Homo sapiens: one gene and its partners. The protein of the gene in region 3 purifies or fractionates together with the protein of the main gene of each other region. This does not show direct contact. Each region holds a gene or a part of one and is shown on either strand. Other genes may lie near its edges.

Region 1 (6,888 bases), on a different chromosome or scaffold from region 3:
TTAATTCTGCTTAATAAAAGCAACTGATATTTATTTGGGGGCAGAAACTATATAAAGTCTTTATATAAGCTGTTTCGTTTAATCCTCTCAACAGTCTCATGGCTAGGTATTATTATCCCCACTTTACAATGAAAAAGAATGGTGGCAAAATAATTTAATTTTTTAAATATTTCACAGGTAATAAGAGATGAAGCTGGAATCTGAAAACCAGAAAGTCTAACTTCTGAGACCATGTTCTTAGTATTGTATATGCTTACATAGAGAGCCTTGCTGTTTCCCTACAGAATTTAGCTGTTTCCTTTCCTTTATTGTTTCATCCCCAGAAAACTATCTTAGTAACCTCTTTAAAAGTAAAGTAGATGGCTGTTAACTTAAAATACTATATATGACACCATGTAATCTTTTTTTTTCTTTTTGAGATGGAGTTTTACTCTTGTTGCCCAGGCTGGAGTGCAATGGCGTGATCTCAGCTTACTGCAACCTCCACCTCCCAAGTTCAAGCAATTCTCCTGCCTCAGCCTCCCAAGTAGCTGGTATTACAGGCGTCCACCACCACACCCAGCTAATTTTTTTGTACTTTTAGTAGAGATGGGGTTTCAACATGTTGGCCAGGCTGGTCTCGAACTCCTGACCTCAGGTGATCCACGCACCTCAGCTTCCCGAAGTGCTGAGATTACAGGCATGAGCCACTGTGCCTGGCTGACACCATGCAATCTTAAAAGCTGAATGACTATTTTTGAAATCCTATGGATAATCTGGCAAAAATAATTGAGCTTATCCTTTCGTATAGTGGATTGATTAGAAATGAAGTTCTACTCAAGACCCATTAATGTAGGACCATCAAGTTAAACTTTTTTTCTTTTCCACTCTGAAAAAATACAACAGATAATGTTTGCTTCTAAATAAAATTGCAGAACCACTAGCAATTCATTCTCAGTTGGATCTCCAGAGCTGACCATACAAACTTCTACTTGTTTCTCCCATTCCTCTTAGTTGTCAATCCTTTCCCATTACTTTCCCATTTCTCTCAGTTGCAAATCCAAACCATTTTCACATTTCAAGACTTAATTCCTATTCCCCCATCTTTCAAACTTGTCTCCTATGTTACTGTGGAAACTGAGGCCATCAGACTTGAATTCTATGAACTCTCTCCTGCCAGATCTACAAATTTATCCCCATGTTCACCCATCCTTCTAACATTCTCTTAGAAGATAAGGTCTCATCTCCTTCTGGCCCAAATCAAATTCTCTACCTGTGTTTTTGGTTCTGTCCTCTCCCATCTCTGCAAGGACCTTGAACCATTAATTTTCCTTTCTGCCTCTTGTATTGTGTTAGATTTGCCAAATATATTGCTCCCATACCCACAATTTCTTATGAGGGGAGGTGATGTTCCCATGATCTCTGCAAAGGAATAGCCATGTTTCGCACTATGCAAACTTCTCTGTACTACATGATTGGACCAAGTGGGCACCTATGTCAAAGGGCATCCAATTTACAGAGTGCCCAGATAATTCAGACATGGTCTGGCATGAAATGAGGAGCACGGCCTGTGACCTTTTTAAATTTTTTCAAAGGCTGCTTAGTGCTCTAAGAACAAGATATCCATTTTAAGTGAAATGAGTGGATTTTTATTATTAGAAAAGTTATGAAATGATCTTTGATGCATGTGTTGCCTGTGAAAGTCATTCACTTTAATGTTCAGTGGGAGTAAGTGTAATCCATGTAATTGCTAGAAAGCTAGGCATCTTAGCACAGGAATAATCACACTGAACATTAGTAATGATAAAAATATCATTTATAGCGGCCTATCATATGGATTTTAAATACATCATCTCTGTCATGATAATCCCATGATATAGGTTCTAATATTACCAATTTTCAGATAAAAAAAAAAAACTAAGGCCCAGAGAACTTGGGTCACTCAATTAATAAGCAGCAGAGCTAATTAGAGTCTGGGTCCAAAGCTTAAGCACTCTTCGTCTTCTTTATATTTGGCTTTTTCCTAGCCAAAAACATGGAGGCATTGCTTACTTTTACTTTATCATTGTTATCTTGGCATAACATCAAAATAATTAGGAGCTGATATACCTAAGTGTATAAAACAGGATAAAATTAATTGATGAGGAATTAGATAAGGAAAATAAAATCAAACTAGGGGCAAATTTCATGTATAAAAATGTGTACTGTGCCATACATTTTGTAAGTGGAGTCTCTAAAGATTGCTTCATAAGGAAGAAGTGAATAATGACTTTGGGAACACTTGGTAACCCCTAGGACTCAAAAGATTGGGTGTGAGAAGTTATTAGTAAGCATATGTATTAGGCAAAATACAGTGAGATGAACCTGGAACAAATGCTCGCTGAATGCACTTAGAAATATTATCAGGCGACTCAGCCTATAGAGCATACGGGTTAGAATGTCTATTTTAAGAAGGAGCGGATATTTACTAAATGCTAATTTGAGCAAAGTTCTACAAAAATATCACTGACCATGAATATTCAGGCATTGACATGCTACAAAATAGCATATCGAAAAGAACATCTGTTGCCCTAAAGATGGTTTCCTGCACAGAACGTCTCCAAATTTTCAGCATTCATAGGCTGGCCCCGTTTCTTCTTGGTTAACATTTAGAGGCACGCCTAAACTTAGAGGAACACCTCTCTAAACCAAGGAGACACTTAAAGAGAAAAGGAGTAAAGATGGTGATGGGCTTATAAAGAGCAATGTAATAGTGTCTTTGAAGCAAAAGCTAACTTAATGAAAACGTGGTCCCAATTTCCTTAAATCTGGATCACCGTACGACTTCTGTAATACTTATTATTTCCCCAGCTGGCAAATAAACTGGAGTTCAAGTGGGAAAAAACAAGGTATTGTTCAGACTTATGATTTTTGGGGTCAAAGATTCTGAGCAATAACCTATTAAAAAACCCAGCTTTTGATTTGAGTATGTAAGTAAGTACATGGGAGGAACGTATGGATCTGGAGTGGTGGTAAATACAGAGCATGTTTGCTTCGCAAAGCAGATTAGCTCATACTTAATAATAGAGTAAATCTGTTGGGCCATGACTCAATGCACCCAAATTCTCTAGATTGCTATGTCTCTACTCGCTAAGCCTTCGGGAACAACAAGCACAGAACTTTTAGGGTGCTGTCTCACTGATGTCGGCGTTAGCTCTGGTAGTCCAGGTCAAGATTATACCAAAGATTCAGGACTTAAATTCCTGCAGAATGTAAGCCCCTTTCCAAGTTCTCTGCTTTACTGTATCCTGTTTATTTTCAAACTCAAATGGAAAAAAACGAAACAAAAACCTTGGGCTTCAAGAGGCATCCTGCCGCAAGGCCCAGCGATGTGAATTTTCAACAACCGTCTCAGGCAGATTTCATGCTGATGGTTCAGGCACTAAACTTTGAAAAACACAGTATCACAGAGTAGGGATGGTGATGTAAGAGTCATCTGTAAAAGCTGTGCTGTTTTGGCAGCCTGGGAGGCTAAGGTTTAGTCTAGGCGACTAAGGTTTAGTCCGGGCTGTATTCACACCCAAAACAACTAAAAAAGCGGAGGAGTCTTTGAGTCAATCCCTGAAGCTCCGGCTAAGAGGAAACTCGCCCACGCTCCAGGGCAGCGACGCCGGCTCCACCTCAGCCACGGCTGTCTCAAGCTTCTCGGGGTTTTCCGCCGGCTCCACCCGAGCCACAAGTCTACAGGACTCCTCGGAGCTTTCCGCCGGGACGCAAGACCCACCGCCAGAGGTTGGTACCTCCTAGAGAACAGCGAAGCGCATCCCGAGGGCCGCCGGCCGGAAGCGCCCTCCAGACCCGCCCCCTGCCCTCCGGAGCCGGAAGCTGGGCATCTGCAGCTGGCTCGGCGCACTCCACTGACCGTCCCGACGATGCTACGCGCGCCCGGCTGCCTCCTCCGGACCTCCGTAGCGCCTGCCGCGGCCCTGGCTGCGGCGCTGCTCTCGTCGCTTGCGCGCTGCTCTCTTCTAGAGCCGAGGGACCCGGTGGCCTCGTCGCTCAGCCCCTATTTCGGCACCAAGACTCGCTACGAGGATGTCAACCCCGTGCTATTGTCGGGCCCCGAGGCTCCGTGGCGGGACCCTGAGCTGCTGGAGGGGACCTGCACCCCGGTGCAGCTGGTCGCCCTCATTCGCCACGGCACCCGCTACCCCACGGTCAAACAGATCCGCAAGCTGAGGCAGCTGCACGGGTTGCTGCAGGCCCGCGGGTCCAGGGATGGCGGGGCTAGTAGTACCGGCAGCCGCGACCTGGGTGCAGCGCTGGCCGACTGGCCTTTGTGGTACGCGGACTGGATGGACGGGCAGCTAGTAGAGAAGGGACGGCAGGATATGCGACAGCTGGCGCTGCGTCTGGCCTCGCTCTTCCCGGCCCTTTTCAGCCGTGAGAACTACGGCCGCCTGCGGCTCATCACCAGTTCCAAGCACCGCTGCATGGATAGCAGCGCCGCCTTCCTGCAGGGGCTGTGGCAGCACTACCACCCTGGCTTGCCGCCGCCGGACGTCGCAGGTGACCCCCCGGGCGGCCCGTGTGCTGTCCCGGTCCTCCCACCCGCCCTGGATGCTCTCCCGCCTCCCCCAGACCCTGGGCTTTTCCGATGCCCCCCAGTTCTCTTTCCTCTTTTCCCAAGCCATCATCCCTCGGGCTACGTCCTCCCTGTCGAGGGATATTACAGACTTGGCTATCTCTTTTTCCCCTTACACGTATGTTCATTTATTAATTCATCAGGTGTAAATTCAGCACCTTGTACTCGCTGCCTGCTTTAGTAGAGTTGGGGATCCAACAGGAAAGGGGACAGACGAGGTCTCCCGCAATTTTTGCGCTCCCGTTCCCAAACTGAATTGCCCCTTCGAGCGCCAACCCATCCCTTCCCCCTTCCCTGGCGTCTAGTTTCACAATTGGGCGCACGTTTTAAAAAACAGAATCTAGAATTTTCTTCCTCGGGCTTTGCTTCCGATACTAGTTTTTCCTTCTTTCTTTTTTTTTTTTTTTAAACTCATCATCTTTTTCAGATGACAGTTTTAGACCTACACCCTGTTTTAGGAACCTGATCTCAAGCCTTTGTGTCCTCCTTTTTTCTTCTGTTTTGTTCATGTTTTTACTGTAGCGTTCCCATCGTTGTAGCTGTGGTCCGTGGTCACAAGCAGTAACAACTCATTTATTCCATTAATTACACTTTTTCGAAATTTGAGAAATCATCTAGTAAGGCCCCGTTATTTCACAGGTGAAGAACCCGAGCCCAAGAGTATGCCTTCTTAATTGTCTTTCTCTAAGGTCTAGTATCCAAGTCTTCTGTTTTCCTAGAATGGTTCTTTTTCTCTTAGAAAATGTTGTAATAGTTACAAATAATAATGATAGCATACACCTCATGCCTATTGTATGCCAGGTATGCCTCACATTTATTTTACAAAATCCTTACAACCACAATCTGGAGTTGATAGTATTTTCCCCTTATCTCAAAGATGAGGAAATTGATACACGAACACATTAAATAATTTGCCCATTTTCATACAGCTAGCTGTGGACCCAGGAAATCTGATTCAGAGCTTGCTTTCTTAGCCATTATGCTATACTGCCTCCATTTGTCCAATAACATACCTAATAAGAATAAAAACATGTAACATTTTTGTACCACAGAGATGAGCAAGCATTAATAGTTTCTTGATCACTTTTAAGGCCAGAATTGAAGTGAGGATTATTGTTTAGCTTCAAAGCCCAAGTGAAAAATTAGAAGTAGGCTGGTTTGTAATTTCTTCTGTAGCTGTTGAACAGTGAAACCATCTGTAAGGGATTTCTCCACTGATTCTGTGTCATGTTATTGTGGGTAATTCAGTTAGCTGACTTGTGTCTAATTACTTGTTGAACTGTGTTTTTTTTTAAATATATACTTTTTCCATTAGCATGAGTGAAAATTCCTCATAAATCTGTTAAATTAACAGAATGGTGAAAGCAGAACATATTTTAATATAACACAATATCTATAGCGACTTCCTGGAACAAGTGAATTTTTGTTCTCAGATGGCATTGCGAAGACTGGCATTTGACTCTCAGTACAGAGCCAGGGATGAAAATACTACAGTTCAGAATAAGCCCACTCCTGACCGTTTTCAGTGTCAGATAGCAAACCCTTTGCCTAGCCACTTTATTATTCTCTATAGACAATAGTTTTGCCTATTATGTACATCTGGTCTTTTGAGGGAGTCTGCTGAATTAGATTTGTAGTTTTGTAGAAACAGAACAATGCCTTTGTTTTTGTTTAAAGACTAGCAATAATTAGATAGTAACAAGGATAAAATACCCAGATGCACTTGGGAAATTATATTTTAGTGTACACAGAAAAAAGGTGACAAAGTTCGCTTATTTTCCTAGTCAAGATATTTTCTTAAGAATTGCAATCCAGTTGACAAAGTGGGCAGAATTATCCATTTCAAGAGAAACAAACATACATACTGATTTTTTTTGCATACACATCCAAAGCCCAGATAAAACTATATTCAATTTTCTCATATTTTATGTACAAAAATGATATACTTGGTGTTCTTTTCGTGGTAAATTGTTGGAGAAATGATTGAAAAATGTGTGTTTTGAATATGACTGAAAAAAACGTAAAGGGCACACCAGTAGTTGAAGCATGATTATGAATGCTTCTCCAATACATATTTGTTGCCCAATTGGGGGCATAATGTAATTTATTAAATTTTATATAGAAAGTTATCTGGGGCTTCAGTTAAAAGATAAACCAATTCACAGGCCCAGCACAGTGAAGCACAGGAGACCCAAAACATCAGTGCGTTTTGTGCTGCTGTCAGTAGTTTTTGTCCAAAGCAGAATCTTTGTAAAGTAATACAGAGTTGGGAAGGTTAATTGAGA
Region 2 (7,021 bases), on a different chromosome or scaffold from region 3:
GGGCACAGAGCTGGGGGCCCACCCACTGCTGCGGGTGATGCCTGCCGCTCCCTCCTCTGGGCCCCCAGGTCCCCCCGGGGGGTAATAAGACGCAGTATGATGAGATTGGCATTCCCGTGGCCCTGCTCAGCTACAAAGACATGCTGGACATCTTCACGGTAGGTCTGCGCCGGCTCAGACCCACGCTCCCGAGGAGATGGGGCAGGGGGCTTCGGGCTGGCTGCCGGGGGGGTTTGTGCCTCAGTTGGTGGGATCAGGGTGGTGGGTGAGGCGTGGCCCCTGCAGGCCAGGGTCTCCAGCCCCAGCCCCACAGCCCACAGCTGCACGTCGACCCATGGCTGGCGGGTGGCTCTGACGCCTGCCTCCGGTGTGTTCCTTGAGGCAGCGTTTCGGCCGCACGGTGAGGGCGGCGCTGTATGCGCCTAAGGAGCCGGTGCTGGACTACAACATGGTCATCATCTTCATCATGGCTGTGGGCACCGTCGCCATCGGCGGCTACTGGGCCGGGAGTCGGGACGTGAAGAAGTGAGTTTCGCATCGTGCGTGTGCTGTGACGGGGTCGGGCGGCTCTGACACGGGCCGGGACGGCCAGTCTTCCAGAACAGCAGTGAGTGCTTTGGCCTCGGCAGGCACGGCTCGCCCCGTGGAGCCCTTCGTTTCTTCCTCAGGAGGTCCTGGGACAGAATCAGTCTCTTTTCCTGCCAGGGTGGGCTCCGGGCACCTGGTGGGTGTGTAGGGCTGGGCAGGTGTGGATGTGGCAGGTACGGGCGTGGCAGGTGCAGGGCTGGGCAGGTGGCTGGGGCCAGCTACCCTCTTCCTGCTGAGCCGCCTGGGTCTGGGGAGGCCCCATGTCCAGGGCTCTTTATGCAGATCCAAGCTGCGGTTGCTGCCCACACGCCAGCCTCTGGCCCGGCCTAGTGGCCACCCCAGCTCAACCCAGGGACGCGGGCCCTGCCACCCTCTGCTGTGTGGTCTCCTCTGCCCTGGGGACGTTCGGGGCGGTTCCTTGCACTTCAGTCCCCCCCGGGTCCCCTCCTGCTCCCGGGTTTTCTGCCCCGTTCCCCCGGGTGGCTGTGGGCTCCCGAGCCCCGTGTCGGCCAGCCGGCCCCAGGGCCCCACGACCCCATGGTGTCTCCCAAGAAGGTACATGAAGCACAAGCGCGACGATGGGCCCGAGAAGCAGGAGGACGAGGCGGTGGACGTGACGCCGGTGATGACCTGCGTGTTTGTGGTGATGTGCTGCTCCATGCTGGTGCTGCTCTACTATTTCTACGATCTCCTCGGTGCGCGGCCCCGGGCGGGTGGGCCGCGGCGTGGAGATGCAGCCCGCCCCGTGCGGAGGGAGGGTGGCGTGCGGGCCTGGCCCCCGGCCTCACGGCCCTGCCCCTGCAGTGTACGTGGTCATCGGGATCTTCTGCCTGGCCTCCGCCACCGGCCTCTACAGCTGCCTGGCGCCCTGTGTGCGGCGGCTGCCCTTCGGCAAGTGCAGGTGAGTCTGCCCTGCTGGCCCCGACGTGCCTGACTCTGTGCGGTGATGGCCACGGCCCCTTTGCCGCCCCATAGCCCCCCATGGTGCAATATTGCTCAGAGTCTACAGCAGGCGCTCCCTCAGTGCTGGCCTGGGGCTCCTAGGCCCAGGAGCAGGGCGGAGTCTGGGCGAGCTATCAATGGAGCCCACCAGCAGCCAGGCGCCAGGGGTGGCGGGGGGAGGGTGCCCTTGTCCCCAGGAACCCTGCCCCAGGTCGCAGGCCGAACCCTGGGTTCCCCAGGGTTCTCCGGGGAACCCAGAAGGTTCCCCACAGCCCAGAGCTTGGCCTGGCTCTTAGGGGTAAAGGGAGCTGCTGGGGGGTCTCCAACAAAGTCAGACCTGGGTCTAGGAAGCGGGGCTAGCCCAGGGGGAGACCTTTTTGTGTTGCCGTCCCTGGGTGAGGAGGTGGGAGGTCTGGAGCAGGCAGGGCCTCGGGCGAAGGGGCGCAGCGCAGGCGAGGGGCTCTGTGGGTACAGCCCGTGGCCCCCAGCGCCTGCCCGGGTCGGGCTCTGCCCTGCCCTTGGGGTGCCTACTGTTGTCATCGTGTGGGATGTGGAGTTTAATGAGGACAACAGAGTGGGGGCTGCCACTCTGCAGGGGGTGCCTGGGCCGGTCCCAAGGGTGGTGGGCAGTGGGATGAGGCCGGGAGCTGGTGGGCTTGGCTCTGACTGCCCCGTGCCCCCCAGGATCCCCAACAACAGCCTGCCCTACTTCCACAAGCGCCCGCAGGCCCGTATGCTGCTCCTGGCGCTCTTCTGCGTGGCCGTCAGCGTGGTGTGGGGCGTCTTCCGCAACGAGGACCAGTAAGTGCTGCTTCCCCCGGGCCCCGGCGGGCAGCGGAGTCCTCGGGTGCACCAGGGCTCCTGGGGCCCTGACTCCCTGCCCTCCCTGGAGGCCGCCCCAGCCTGGAGCTGCTTCAGCACCGCGTGATGAAGAGCCCTGGCCCCGGGCTGCTCTGACAGGGCTGCGAGGGCGTTTCACCTGGGGTTTGTCCGGGTGTCATGGGAACCCTGACTGGAATCCGGGAGGAGAGGCCGGAGCCCCTGTGGCCAGGAGCCACGTCCTCCAGCCTGGATGGGACTCCTTTGTGGGGCATCGCTGCCCAGGGCCACAGTCTGTCCCCCGCTGTCCCTTTCCTGGCACCCACGTGCACGCCGCAGGTTCGAGGCCCAGGGTGTGGGCACCAGGGCACCCGGTCCTCTTGGTCATGACTGCTGCGGCTTCTGAGCAGTGGTGGAGGTGGGGCAGGCACTGCTCCCCCCACGCTCACCTCCCACGTGGCCTGGACTTGTGGCTGCCTCCCGCTGGCCGGGCCTCCCCCATGAGGCCGAGTGCCTGGTGCCGTGTTGGGAGGACAGAGCTGGCCCGTCCCCGCCCGGTCCCCACCGCTGTCGCTGATACCATCTGGCACTTCCTCCCAGCCTTCCTGAGGCAGCCAAGTACGCTTGGCTTTGGTGTGTATTGGAGCCACGGCACGTTTAACTGGCAGAAGGAAGATGTGAAAATATTTTGAATCCTTTGTACACAAAGAGAAAATGAATCTTTTCAGTTATTTCCAAGCCAGGAAACTCGCTCCGTCACATGAAGTTAGAGCAGGCCTCAGTCAGCTGGGCGCAGGGGCTCACGCCTGGGATCCCAGCATTTGGTAGGCCAAGGCAGGACGATCACTTTGCCCAGGAGTTCAAGACCAGCCTGGGCAACAAGCGAGACGCCCTATTTAAGAAATAATATAAAATCAGAAAAAATAACTGGCCGCAGTTCTCTGGGTGCTTGAAGTACGTGGCGCCTGGAATTGGCTGTACCAGCGTCTCCCATGGAGGCCTCTGCTGTTAGCAGCCGCCCCGCCCTGGAGATGTTTTTATCCCATTTTCAAATGAAGCCTTTGATGTTTGAGACGCTGAGGAACGCTGGGGAACTCGTCCAGCAAGTGACAGGCAGAGCCTGCATTGGGGGCAGGGGCCAGCGGGGAGGGGACTCTGGGGCTTCGTGGGGCCAGGAGAGAGCCGAAGTTGCGGCTGGCTGCAGGGGCCGTGGCCTTGTGCAGGAGGCAGTTCTGTGCTTTGCCCCAGGGCACCAACCGCATGGCAGCCCCACCCACTGTGGACCCAGAGGTTCTTTGAGGAAACCTGGTGTGGCACAAGTTTTAATTTAATAAACAGTTTGGGCACGGGGGCTCATGCCTGTAATCCCAGCACTTTGGGAGGTGAGGCGGGCAGATCACTTGAGGTCAGGAGTTTGAGACCAGCCTGGCCAACATGACAAAACCCCATCTCTACTAAAAATACAAAAAAATTTGCCTGGCATTGTGGTGTGTGCCTGTAATCCCAGCTACTTGGGAGGCTGAGGCAGGAGAATTGCTTGAACCTGGGAGGTGGAGGTTGCAGCGAGTCAAGATCGTGCCACCAAACTCCAGCCTGGGTGACAGAGTGAGACTCCATCTCAAAAACAAAATAAAAACAGTTTGGAGGGGTCAGTGCCCAAGCCCTCCTGCGCACGCACCCTCTGCCTGGCCCCTGCCTACAGCCTGTGACCCCTGCCTACAGCGTGACGCCCACCATCCGGGGACAGTGACTGAGGGGACGCAGCCGGCCAGGCCCGTGTCCACCATCCTGGCCCCACCATCCGGGGACAGCGACTGAGGGGACGCAGCCGGCCAGGCCCGTGTCCACCGTCCTGGCCCCACCATCTGGGGACAGCGACCGAGGAGACGCAGCCGGCCAGGCCTGTGTCCACTGTCCTGGCTGCCGAGTGGTGGGCTCCTCTACCTGCTTCCGCAGGGTGGGCCCTGGGGTGGGGCCTGTGCCGCCAGCCCTGCTGGAGTTGTAACAGCAGGGGTCCTCCCACAGGTCTGGGGTCCTCAGAGTCATCCCCTGGGCAGGTGGAAGGGCAGTGGGGCTGCGTGCTGGCTGAGAGCAAGGGCCCTGTGTGGCTCGTGGGAGGCGGCGTCCTGGGTGGTCAGCCAGCCTCTGCCCCGGCGAGGATGCTGCTTTGTCTTGCAGGTGGGCCTGGGTCCTCCAGGATGCCCTGGGCATCGCCTTCTGCCTCTACATGCTGAAGACCATCCGTCTGCCCACCTTCAAGGTGAGTGCAGGGAGGGCACGGCTGCGGGGCAGCATGGGTAGTGGGGGCCCTTCATCCTAGCCTGGCCCGTGTGGGGCTGTGGTCCTTGCAGGTCTGTGCTCCTGCTCACTGCCCTGGGGATGGCCGCCTAGGCCTGTTGTGAAGGGTGGGGCTTGAAGATTGGGTCCCAAAGCCCCCGCTGAGGCGGCCTGGGTGGGTGGCTGCGGGGCGGTTCCCGGCAGGGGCAACTCATGTCTAGATGAGGTGGTGGTGAGAGTGGTTGAATAGGGCTGGAGGAACTGGCCTCAGGTGGTACCGGGAGTGCGGGGATGTTGTCAAGCCCCAGGCGGCTGCACTCCCGTGAGGGCCCCACAGCACCCCAAGCAAGCGGCATTTGAATGCCCAGGATGGCCCTCTGTATCCCCAGAGCCGGCCCTGCGTGGCACAGGCCTCCGCCCTCCCGTCCCCGCCTTCCTGTTACGTGGAGACTCTAAAAGCCTGACTTTTGCCCGTAAATCCCTACCTGATGTTGCTTCCAAAGCTCCTCCTGCGTGGTGCGTCCCTGGCACTGGGCACGCTCTGCTCAGGTTCCTTTAAAGGCTGCCTCCCAGGAGGAGGCGCTGGGCCTCATGAGATGGGAGTGGGGGAGGCACGGGCCGGGGTGGGGGCCGCCCTCAGCCGTGGGCTTCGCAGGCCTGCACGCTGCTGCTGCTGGTGCTGTTCCTCTACGACATCTTCTTCGTGTTCATCACGCCCTTCCTGACCAAGGTAGGCGACTGCCTGTCCCTGCTCCACCCCATCACCCCGCTCCCCCGCCCCCTCGCAACCCCCGCCCCATCACCCCCCCCATCACCCCGCCCCCTCGTCCCGCCCCCTCGTCCCCCTCCACCCCACACCGTGCTCCCCTGCCCCCCACCCCATCACCCCGCTCACCTCCACCCCATCACCCTGCTCCCCTGCCCCATCACCCCCCATCACCCTGCCCCTTGCACCCCCCCATCGCATCACCCTGCCCCCTCGCCCCATCACCCCACTCCCCTGCCCCCCCACCCCATCACCACGCTCCCTCACTCAACCCCATTCTGTGCAGAGTGGGAGCAGCATCATGGTGGAGGTGGCCACTGGGCCCTCGGACTCAGCCACCCGTGAGAAGGTGTGTCTTCTGACTGCAGGGTCTCAGGTTGCCATGGGTCAAGGTGTTGCGCGGAGCGGATAGGGCTCGAGGCATCCCGCGGCCGGGTGAGGGTCCTGGAGGACATTGTCCTCTTCCCGTCTTTGCAGCTGCCCATGGTCCTGAAGGTGCCCAGGCTGAACTCCTCACCTCTGGCCCTGTGTGACCGGCCCTTCTCCCTCCTGGGTTTCGGAGACATTTTGGTGCCAGGTACTGAGGCGGGTGGAGCACACGGGTCCACGCTGTGGGGCAGGGCCCCGGGCGGCTGAGGTTTGCCTTTGGGAGTGAGTGGCCCGCACACCGTCGGCTGGAGATAAAGCCCTGAGGGTCAGAGTCGGGCAGGTTGGGGCCGTTGAGGCCTGGGTGCCTGGGCAGCGAGGGCATTGCCTGGGTGGGGTAGGGACCCCCTTTGTTCCTAGGGAGCGGGGAAGGCCCCCCGATTGCAGACAGCCTCACCCCATCCTGCTCGGGGTTGTGCAGGGGTCCTTGCTGGGGCCTGGATCCCGGGTCCCAGTGAGCTCATGTTGCTGCAGAAGGCAGAGACTGTACCCTCGCAGCCTCAGTGTCCCCAGGGTCCTGCCAGGTGTGTCTGCCTGGACTTTGTTCTCACTGTGGTCTCAGTTTACCCACTGAGAGTCATGGCAGCCCTGTCCCGAGCGAGCGTGTGGCCTGTCTGTGAAATGACAGCAGCCACCAGGCAGCGAGAGGCCCACGGCGCCCACAGGTGCTCAGGTGCCCGCCCGCTCCCAGGAAGCCCCTGCTCTGAGGCTCTGCGGGCCCGAGTAAGCCTCCGCCCTGTGCCTCCCCCAGGGCTGCTGGTGGCCTACTGCCACAGGTTTGACATCCAGGTACAGTCCTCCAGGGTATACTTCGTGGCCTGCACCATCGGTAAGTGCCTCGGTTGGGCCCGTGCTGGCCTCTCTGGCTCCAGCCCCACCCCGACTTAGCCTCTGTCCTGACCCTGACCCCTAACCCCAACCCCAACCCTAACCCTAATTCCAACTCTAACACCGTAACCATAACACCCTAACCCTAACCCCCTGGCCACTCCGGGAGCTGGGCTCGGGTGGCTGGGCCTGTGCCTGCATCCCCCTCTTTCTCATTCTCCCCGGGCCTGTGCCTGCAACCCCCTCTTTCTCATTCTTCCTGGGCCTGTGCCTCTGTCCCCATCTTCCTCATTCTTCCTGGGCCCGTGCCTGCATCCCCCTCTTTCTCATTCTCCCCGGGCCTGTGCCTGCAACCCCCTCTTTCTCATTCTTCCT
Region 3 (7,502 bases):
ACACTTATTGAGCACCTACTGTGTCCCACGCTCAGGACTGGGCACCAGGGCAATAGAGATAATTGAAACATTGTCCTTTTTCCCAGACAGCTTGCAGCTTAGTCAGCAGATGGATAAGCAAGGGCCACCAAAGTGCAGGGGGAAGACACGGATGGAGGAGACAGAAGGCACAATGCGAGTGGGGCATTCAGGGTGGGTGACAACAGTCATGACCTTGTTGGTGAAAGGCAGTTAGGAAGGTTTCAGAAGAGGGAATGTTTAAGCTAGGTTTCACAGGATGGGAGTAGGGGGATAGAGAAGGGAGACCCAGCATTGCCAGCAGACAGAATAAATTGTGCAAGGGGTTCAGTTGAACTGAAGAAGTGCAGGTCCAGGGTGGGGCAAGGTGAAGGTGAAGCTGGAAAGATGGGTTGGGATCAGATGTTGAAGGGGTGTGGTCACCAGGCTAAGGAGTTTGGGCTTCTTCCTGTTGGCAGTGGACGCCATTACAGTGTTTTGGGCAAGATGACCTGGTCAGCTTTGCTCTTTAGGACGCTTGTCCGGGACGCTGCGTGCAGAGTGATTTGGAGTGGCAGGTGGAGAGCCAGGGATATGAGACAGGACACCATTGAGGTGGCCAGGTTGGAGACAACAGTGGCCAGGACTAGGGTAGAGTGGGGGGTGTGGAGGGGCAGGGATGGATTCAAGAGCTATGTAGGAAGCAGAACCTAGACCCTCCATGGGAAGGCAAACAAGGCTGAGGGGTCAGTGCCTGGGATTCCACTGCCGGAGGTTGCTGGGATGTGGGTCAGGGGAGCAGAGATCAAGGCTTATTTAGCCCCCACTGACCATTCCAGACTCCTGTCATGGCCCTCCCCGGCTCCCTGGCCCCACTTTGCCCACATGGCTTCTCTGTTCTTCAGATGTGAGAAGCTTCTTCTTGCCTCAGGGCTCTCACACATTCTGTTTCCTCTACCTGCAGCACTGTTCCACTTGGCTACAGCCTGCCCTGCCCACTCAGCCCTTGGCGTCTCTGATCTCAGATGGATAGGTCACTCTTGGATCCTCTCACAGAACAGAGCATGTGTGGTTCATGGGACTCACTCCAGCAGTGATGATACAATGCTGCTGCCCGTTCAGTACTGTGCCTCTACTTAACCAAAGCTCCTGGAGGACAGGAACTGTATCTGACTCACTCTCTGCCATATCCAAGCACTCAGCATGGAGCATGGCACTTAGCCGCTTGTTAAACTTTTACTGAATACATGAATGGTGAATTAATGGTGAGGTTTTCTTGGATGCACTGACATCCTTAATGGGCTGTTCAATAGCAGTCGGATATAGGAGCTAGGTTCACACTTTGATGGGATGACAGATTACGAAGTTTGTTACTATGAGTGAATCTAGAAGGTATTTGTCTGAAGAGGAGACCTTGGGGTGGGCTGGGATGGTAAGTGAGCTCAGTACTCCACAGGCTGCCCTTGACTTTACTCTGTACTTTGAAGGATGCAAAATTCAAGCGTCCTGGCTCCTTGCAGCAACTAGAATGTTCAGTAGCCATTTCTGCCACGTGGATAGAAATCTAAGGTCCAAAACAAGGAAGGGATCAAATCCCTTTGCTCCCCTCTGTCCCTTCCTCACTGTAACCTGGGACACTGACAGACAGACCTGTCAGTGATCAGATGAGAAATGGAGAGAGGCCCAGGAGCTTCACATGTGCAAGGGTAGGAGGCAGGCAGATGGCAGACCTGCTCAGCCTAAAGGTGCTTGTGCAAGTACAGGAGGTTCATGCAAGTACAGGAGGCCAGAGACAAAGCTATAAGCCCCAAGGACTCTCAGGGAGGCAGACCTCTTGTGTGAGGAAGGACTGTCTTTGTTCGAAGCCATCCAACAACGAAACTGGTAGGTAGTGAGCTCCCCATCACCATGAATGACCTCCCAGTGGGGCTGCTGTAGGAAAGCCCTAGTGGAAGAAGGGAGATGAAACCCAGATGACCATTATTTTTTATTTTATTATTTTATTTATTTATGTATCTATTTATTTATTTTGAGACCGTCTGGCTCCATCACCCAGGCTGGAGTGCAGTGGCGCAATCTCGGCTCACTTCAACCTCCGCCTCCCTAGTTCAAGTAATTCTCCTCCCTCAGCCTCCCAAGTAACTGAGATTACAGGCACACGCCACCACACCCAGCTAATTTGTGTGTGTGTGTGTGTGTGTGTGTGTGTGTGTGTGTATTTTTAGTAGAGATGGGGTTTCACCATGTCAGCCAGCCTGGTCTCGAACTCCTGACCTCAGGTGATCCATGCAGCTTGGCCTCCCAAAGTGCTAGGATTACAGGCGTGAGCCACCACACCAAGCCTATTTTTATTTATTTATTTATTTATTTATTTATTTAGGCAGTTTCTCGCTCTGTCACCAGGCTGGAATGCAGTGGCACAACCTTGGCTCACTGCACCCTCCACCTCCCAGGTTCAAGCAATTCTCCTGCCTCAGCCTCCTGAGTAGCTGGGATTACAGGTATGCGCCACCACGCCTGGCTAATTTTTTGTATTTTTGGTAGAGATGGGTGTCACCATGTTGACCAGGGCTGGTCTCGAACTCCTGACCTCAAGTGAATGCACCCGCCTCAGCCTCCTCCCAAAGTGCTGGGATTACAGGTGTGAGCCATGGTGCCTGGCCCCAAGATGACCTTTAAAGTCCAATTCCCCTTTTATAAGATGGCGTTTTTGCTTTAGGACAGGAAGTCATCATTAAATATTTTCTCTACCTGCCTAAGCAATGGAAAGATAGCTGCCACCTGCCTCAGAGGCATCCCTGGGACTGTGCAGTTTCCTAAGGAGGAACGGAAGGATCTTGAAGCTGAGTCAAGGATCACTGGGGGCCTCAAGCTAGTCTTGGCCACAGGTCTGGGGCTTCTATGGGTCTGTAGAGGTGACTGGATGGCTGGTGTCCCCAAAGGGACTGTTCTTTTTTTAATTAAAAAAAAAATTTTTTTTTAGAGTTGGGGTCTTGCTATATTGCCCAGGCTGGTCTCTAATTTCTGGGCTCAAGCAATCCTCCTGCCTCAGCCTCCCAAGTGTTAGGATTACAGGCATGAGCCACCGCACCTGGCTGGGGCTGTCCTCAAACAAGAATCCTTCGCCTTGTCATTGGAATATTCTTGCAACTTATCTGCAGGCTTGAAATCTTTCGAAATAAAGTTTTTCTTTAAAAAAAAAAAACACAGATTCTGATTTAAATATTTCAGAGCGAAGCTCAGCATCTGTATTTGTAAATTCTCCCCCAGGGAAATCCAATCTGCAGACAGAGCTGAAAAACACTGATCTAAATGAATTAGAGAAACGTGTATGTAAATAAAATGTATTTTATATATCAGAAATTCTTTGAGAGCAAATATCCAAATGACTTATTAATGTATACTATGTAAGTATGGGGGAGTTTTAGAAACTGATTTTTCTTTAAAAGAATCTTGTCTTTATTTAACCTATGAAGATACAGATGAGGCCGCGTGCAGTGACTCATGCCTATAATCCCAGCACTTTGGGAGGCCGAGGCAGGCAGATCACGAGGTCAGGAGTTCGAGATCAGCCTGGCCAACATAGTGAAACCCCGTCTCTACTAAAAATACAAAAAGTTAGCTGGGCAGGTGGCAGGTGCCTGTAATCCTAGCTACTCAGGAGGCTGAGGCAGGAGAATCGCTTGAACCCAGGAGGCAGGGGTTGCAGCCAGCCGAGATCGCGCCAGGCACACCAGCCCGGGCAACAGTGTGAGACTCTGTCTCAAAAAAAAAAAAAGCAAATGAACACATAATACCTGCAAAGCAAGAAGGCATCTTCCTTTTAATGTTTTATTTTGCCTTTGTTTTGCCTGTTAGTTGTGCCCACTTTGCGGTACAAAAAAATAAGTGAAATAAAAGTAAGTAAAAATGATCATTTCTGCTTACGTTTACAGCTCATTTCATATTCTGCAAAATGTTTTCCCGTCTGCTATCACCGCCGCCATCCTCACAGCAGCCTGGGAGAAAGGCAGAGCCAAAAGTCTCATCTCCACTTCGTGCATGGGTGATCTGAGGCCCAGTTAAGAAAAGTGGCTCTACCGAGGTCCCAGAGTTGGTTGCTGGAGGCACTGGCAAAGGAATCCAGGCTCCAGCCCCCTTCTCTGCCTCCTGCCATCTTCCAGTTGCTTTTTTCCTTTCTCTCTTTCTCTATCTCTTTCCCCTTCTCTCTGCCTTGAACTCTCTCTCTTTCTACTTCAACTTTCCTCTCCTTGCTCCAACCCTCAGATTGGAGTCAGCTTTGCAAGTTGTCCAAACTTTTTGTCACTCTGGAAACCTGCCAGCCCCATGGCCACAGCCCCATCTCATCAAAAGCTCAGCATCTGCACCTAGAGCAAGCCCTTTCCGGATGTCAGCGTGCAAAGATTAACTCTGGTCTCTCCATCTGGCCCTAGATAAGATAAGATTAGGAGAGCGGCACTATAAATAGGCCCCCATCCTTCCTCAGGCGCAGGCCCCAGCCAGCTCAGGCTACACTATCCCAGGATCAGCATGGCCGTCCGCCAGTGGGTAATCGCCCTGGCCTTGGCTGCCCTCCTTGTTGTGGACAGGGGTGAGTGGGCAGAACCTGGATTCTCTGTGGCTTTGTGTTGGTAGGTGAGCTTGGGGTGAGAGCAGAAGCAGGGCCTGGAGCACCCTGTGAGGCCTCAGCTTTTTCCATGTACCTTCATTCTGCATATGCACCCTCCACTGTGCTGGGGAAAGTTCTGGGCTGGGAGAAAAGAAACTTGGGTTCAAATCCTGACTGGCGCAGAATTACCAAAGTCCCCTACCCTCTTGGGGCCTCAGTTTCTCCAGCTGTAAAAGAGGGCATTGTTCCAGTTCAAAGCTGCACTGAGCAACTATTGGGCTGGAGGCTGTGGGGACAGAAGGGAGCAGGTAGGTCCCAGCTCTCAGGAGAGACTGACAAGTATGCTGGGTGCAGGGTGGTGGATGCTAAGAGAGACCTGGCCGAGGTCTTCTGAGCTCCCGATCTCTCTGAAAGGCTGTGGTTTGGGACTTGGGCAGCCATGTGAGCACGACAGAGCCCTTTCCCAGGACTGGACACATATACTTGGGGCAGGGCCCTCTCAGGATCTGGGCCATCCCTGCAATCTCACAGCTACCATGTCAGGCACTGTTCTGAGCCCTTAAGACAGATTAGTGACCCAAACAGAAAAAGCACGGTCCTGATGGAGCATAAATCCAATGGGGTAGAGGAAAAGGGGAAAGGCAATAAACAAGATGGTTACAATGTATGTTAAACGGTATGTTAGAAGCTGATAAAAGTTAAGGAAAAAATACTTGGCAGGGTGATGGGCACTGGAAGGGGGTTGCAATTTCAAATCAGGGGAGGTATCTCTGAGAGTCCGATGTTTGAGCAAAGCTTGAAGGAGATGAGGGACTAAGCCATGTGGATATCTGGGAGAAGATTCCAGGCAGAGGGAACAGCTCAGGTGCAAAGGACCTGAGGCAGGGGCATGCCTGGAGTGACTGAGGTACTGTAAGACCAGTGTGGCAGGAGGGGACATTGTACGGAGTGATAGGAGAGGAGATGAGAGAGGCAAATTGGAACTGTACCGGGAAAGACCTTGTTGGCCAACATAAGAACTTGGCTTTTCCTCTGACTAAAATGGGAGGCACTGAAAGCTTTGAGCAGAGAGTTATGTCTTTCAAGGGTTGCTCTGGTTGGTACATTGAGAATAAACTGAACAGGGAAGCGGGGAGACCAGTTAGGACCCGCCTGGACAAAAGCCATAAGTTATAAGGCAACGCCTGGCAGGATCCAGGGCCACTGACCTCATGGCCAGTCCCACACCCATTTCCCCAGCTGGAAACAGACCTGGGCACAGGGGGAAAGGGAAACGGGTCTGGGGACCTGTTCAGGAGCAGCCTGCTTACGCCCAGCCTGGCACCTACACCTACCTACTCCTTGAGCAGTTGGGAACACTGAAAAGCCTGCTCTGAAGAAGTTTGGTTTTTGTTTGTTTGTTTTTGTTTTTGTTTTTTGCACATTTCAGACTACTGCCTGGGCTGAGTGAGGAGGGGGCATTTTGGGTCAAGGTCAAGGGCAGCCTGGGGGTAAATGTAGCTTTTCCCCACATCCCCCAGAAAGAAACTCTGACATCTTAGAGTTCTGAACACCCCCTCCTCCCAATACACTTTAATTTTTTTTTTTATTTAAACAAAAATTTTTTTTTCAAGACAGAGTCTTGCTTTGTTGCCCAGGCTGGAGTGCAGTGGCACGATCTTGGCTCACTGCAACCTCTGCCTCCTAGGTTGAAGCAATTATCCTGCCTCAGCCTCCTGAGTAGCTGGGATTACAGGCACATGCCACCACACCCAACTAATTTTTGTATTTTTAGTAGAGACGGAGTTTCACCATGTTGGCCAGGCTGGTCTCGAACTTCCAACCCCAAGATTTGCCCGCCTCGGCTTCCCAAGGTGCTGGGATTACACCAATGCACTTTAGTATTCAATTCCTGAACACCCACAGTGTAGGACATTGAACCAAGTGCTGCGCAAAGGCAGACATAAAGGAACCCCAAGGAGCTCAGGTGCATAGGGAGGCGGGGTGACCCAGTGAGTGGGACAGTACATGGTGGTGTGAAAGAAGCCTCCATCCAGATCTGCTCAGGAAACTGTTGGGGACGTCAAGGACAGCTTCACTGGGGGGCAGCATCAAGCCTTGAAAGGAGGGTATGATTCGGCGGGAGGAGAACGGAGACGAAGACATTTCAGGGAGGGGACATGGCATGAGCCAAAGCAGGGCCCAATCTAGGACCCGTGAGCAGAGAGGAATAGCTGGGGCATGGAGAGGTGTACTGGGAAGTCAGCCCAAGAAGCAAGTTTAGGGTCAGCTTACGCAGTACCCTAAACATAAGACTAAGCAGCTCAGGTCCATAGGGAGGCTTAGTGATCAGGACAGGGAACCACGGAAGGGCTTTATATTTTTTAAATGCTTTTCTTTTCCCTAACAGTTAAATATCAAGAAATGCACAAATCTTATCACTCGATGAATCTTGACAATGTATACACTCGTGTAACCCAAACCCCCATCAAGATACAGGACCTCTTGAGACAAGGACTTAGGGAAGAAAAATAAATACAGAACATTTCCATAGCCCCAGAAATTCCCCTATGTCAGTCAATCCCTGCCCCCATCCCAGTGCTCTGACACTTTTTTTTTTTTTTTAAGAGACAAAGTCTCACTCTGTTGCCCAGGCTGGAGTGCAGTGGTGCAATCATAGCTCACTGCAGCTTCAACCTCCTGGATTCAAACGATCCTCCTATCTCAGCCTCACAAGTAGCTGGGACTACAGGTGCGTGCCACCACACTCAGCTAATTTAAAAATTTTTTTAAATTTATTTTTATTTATTTATTTATTTATTTTTGAGACGGAGTTTTGCTCTGTCACCCAGGTTGGAGTCCAGTGGCACAATCTTGGCTCACTGCAATCTCTGCCTACTGGGTTCAAGTGATTCTC

The links. The genes of interacting proteins can lie anywhere in the genome.
Region 1: the proteins of SPINK4 (region 3) and MINPP1 purify together in Homo sapiens (affinity purification with mass spectrometry; 2 studies listed by BioGRID and IntAct, with this or other methods). This does not show direct contact.
Region 2: the proteins of SPINK4 (region 3) and SPPL2B purify together in Homo sapiens (affinity purification with mass spectrometry; 2 studies listed by BioGRID and IntAct, with this or other methods). This does not show direct contact.

What each region holds. Positions count from the first base shown.
Region 1 is NC_000010.11:87,501,026-87,507,913, forward strand, and holds the start of MINPP1 (multiple inositol polyphosphate phosphatase 1 isoform 1 precursor), read left to right. Parts: upstream 1-3,867; 5' UTR 3,868-3,890; coding exon 3,891-4,527; intron 4,528-6,807; exon of another isoform or gene 6,808-6,888. UniProt on the Homo sapiens protein: Multiple inositol polyphosphate phosphatase that hydrolyzes 1D-myo-inositol 1,3,4,5,6-pentakisphosphate (InsP5[2OH]) and 1D-myo-inositol hexakisphosphate (InsP6) to a range of less phosphorylated inositol phosphates.
Region 2 is NC_000019.10:2,338,684-2,345,704, forward strand, and holds part of SPPL2B (signal peptide peptidase-like 2B isoform 2 precursor), read left to right. Parts: exon of another isoform or gene 1-68; coding exon 69-158; intron 159-381; coding exon of another isoform or gene 382-385; coding exon 386-525; exon of another isoform or gene 526-607; intron 608-1,140; coding exon 1,141-1,283; intron 1,284-1,392; coding exon 1,393-1,489; intron 1,490-2,214; coding exon 2,215-2,331; intron 2,332-4,527; coding exon 4,528-4,609; intron 4,610-5,281; coding exon 5,282-5,356; intron 5,357-5,678; coding exon 5,679-5,741; intron 5,742-5,869; coding exon 5,870-5,969; intron 5,970-6,569; coding exon 6,570-6,647; intron 6,648-7,021. UniProt on the Homo sapiens protein: Intramembrane-cleaving aspartic protease (I-CLiP) that cleaves type II membrane signal peptides in the hydrophobic plane of the membrane. Functions in ITM2B and TNF processing.
Region 3 is NC_000009.12:33,235,682-33,243,183, forward strand, and holds the start of SPINK4 (serine protease inhibitor Kazal-type 4 precursor), read left to right. Parts: upstream 1-4,485; 5' UTR 4,486-4,527; coding exon 4,528-4,588; intron 4,589-7,502.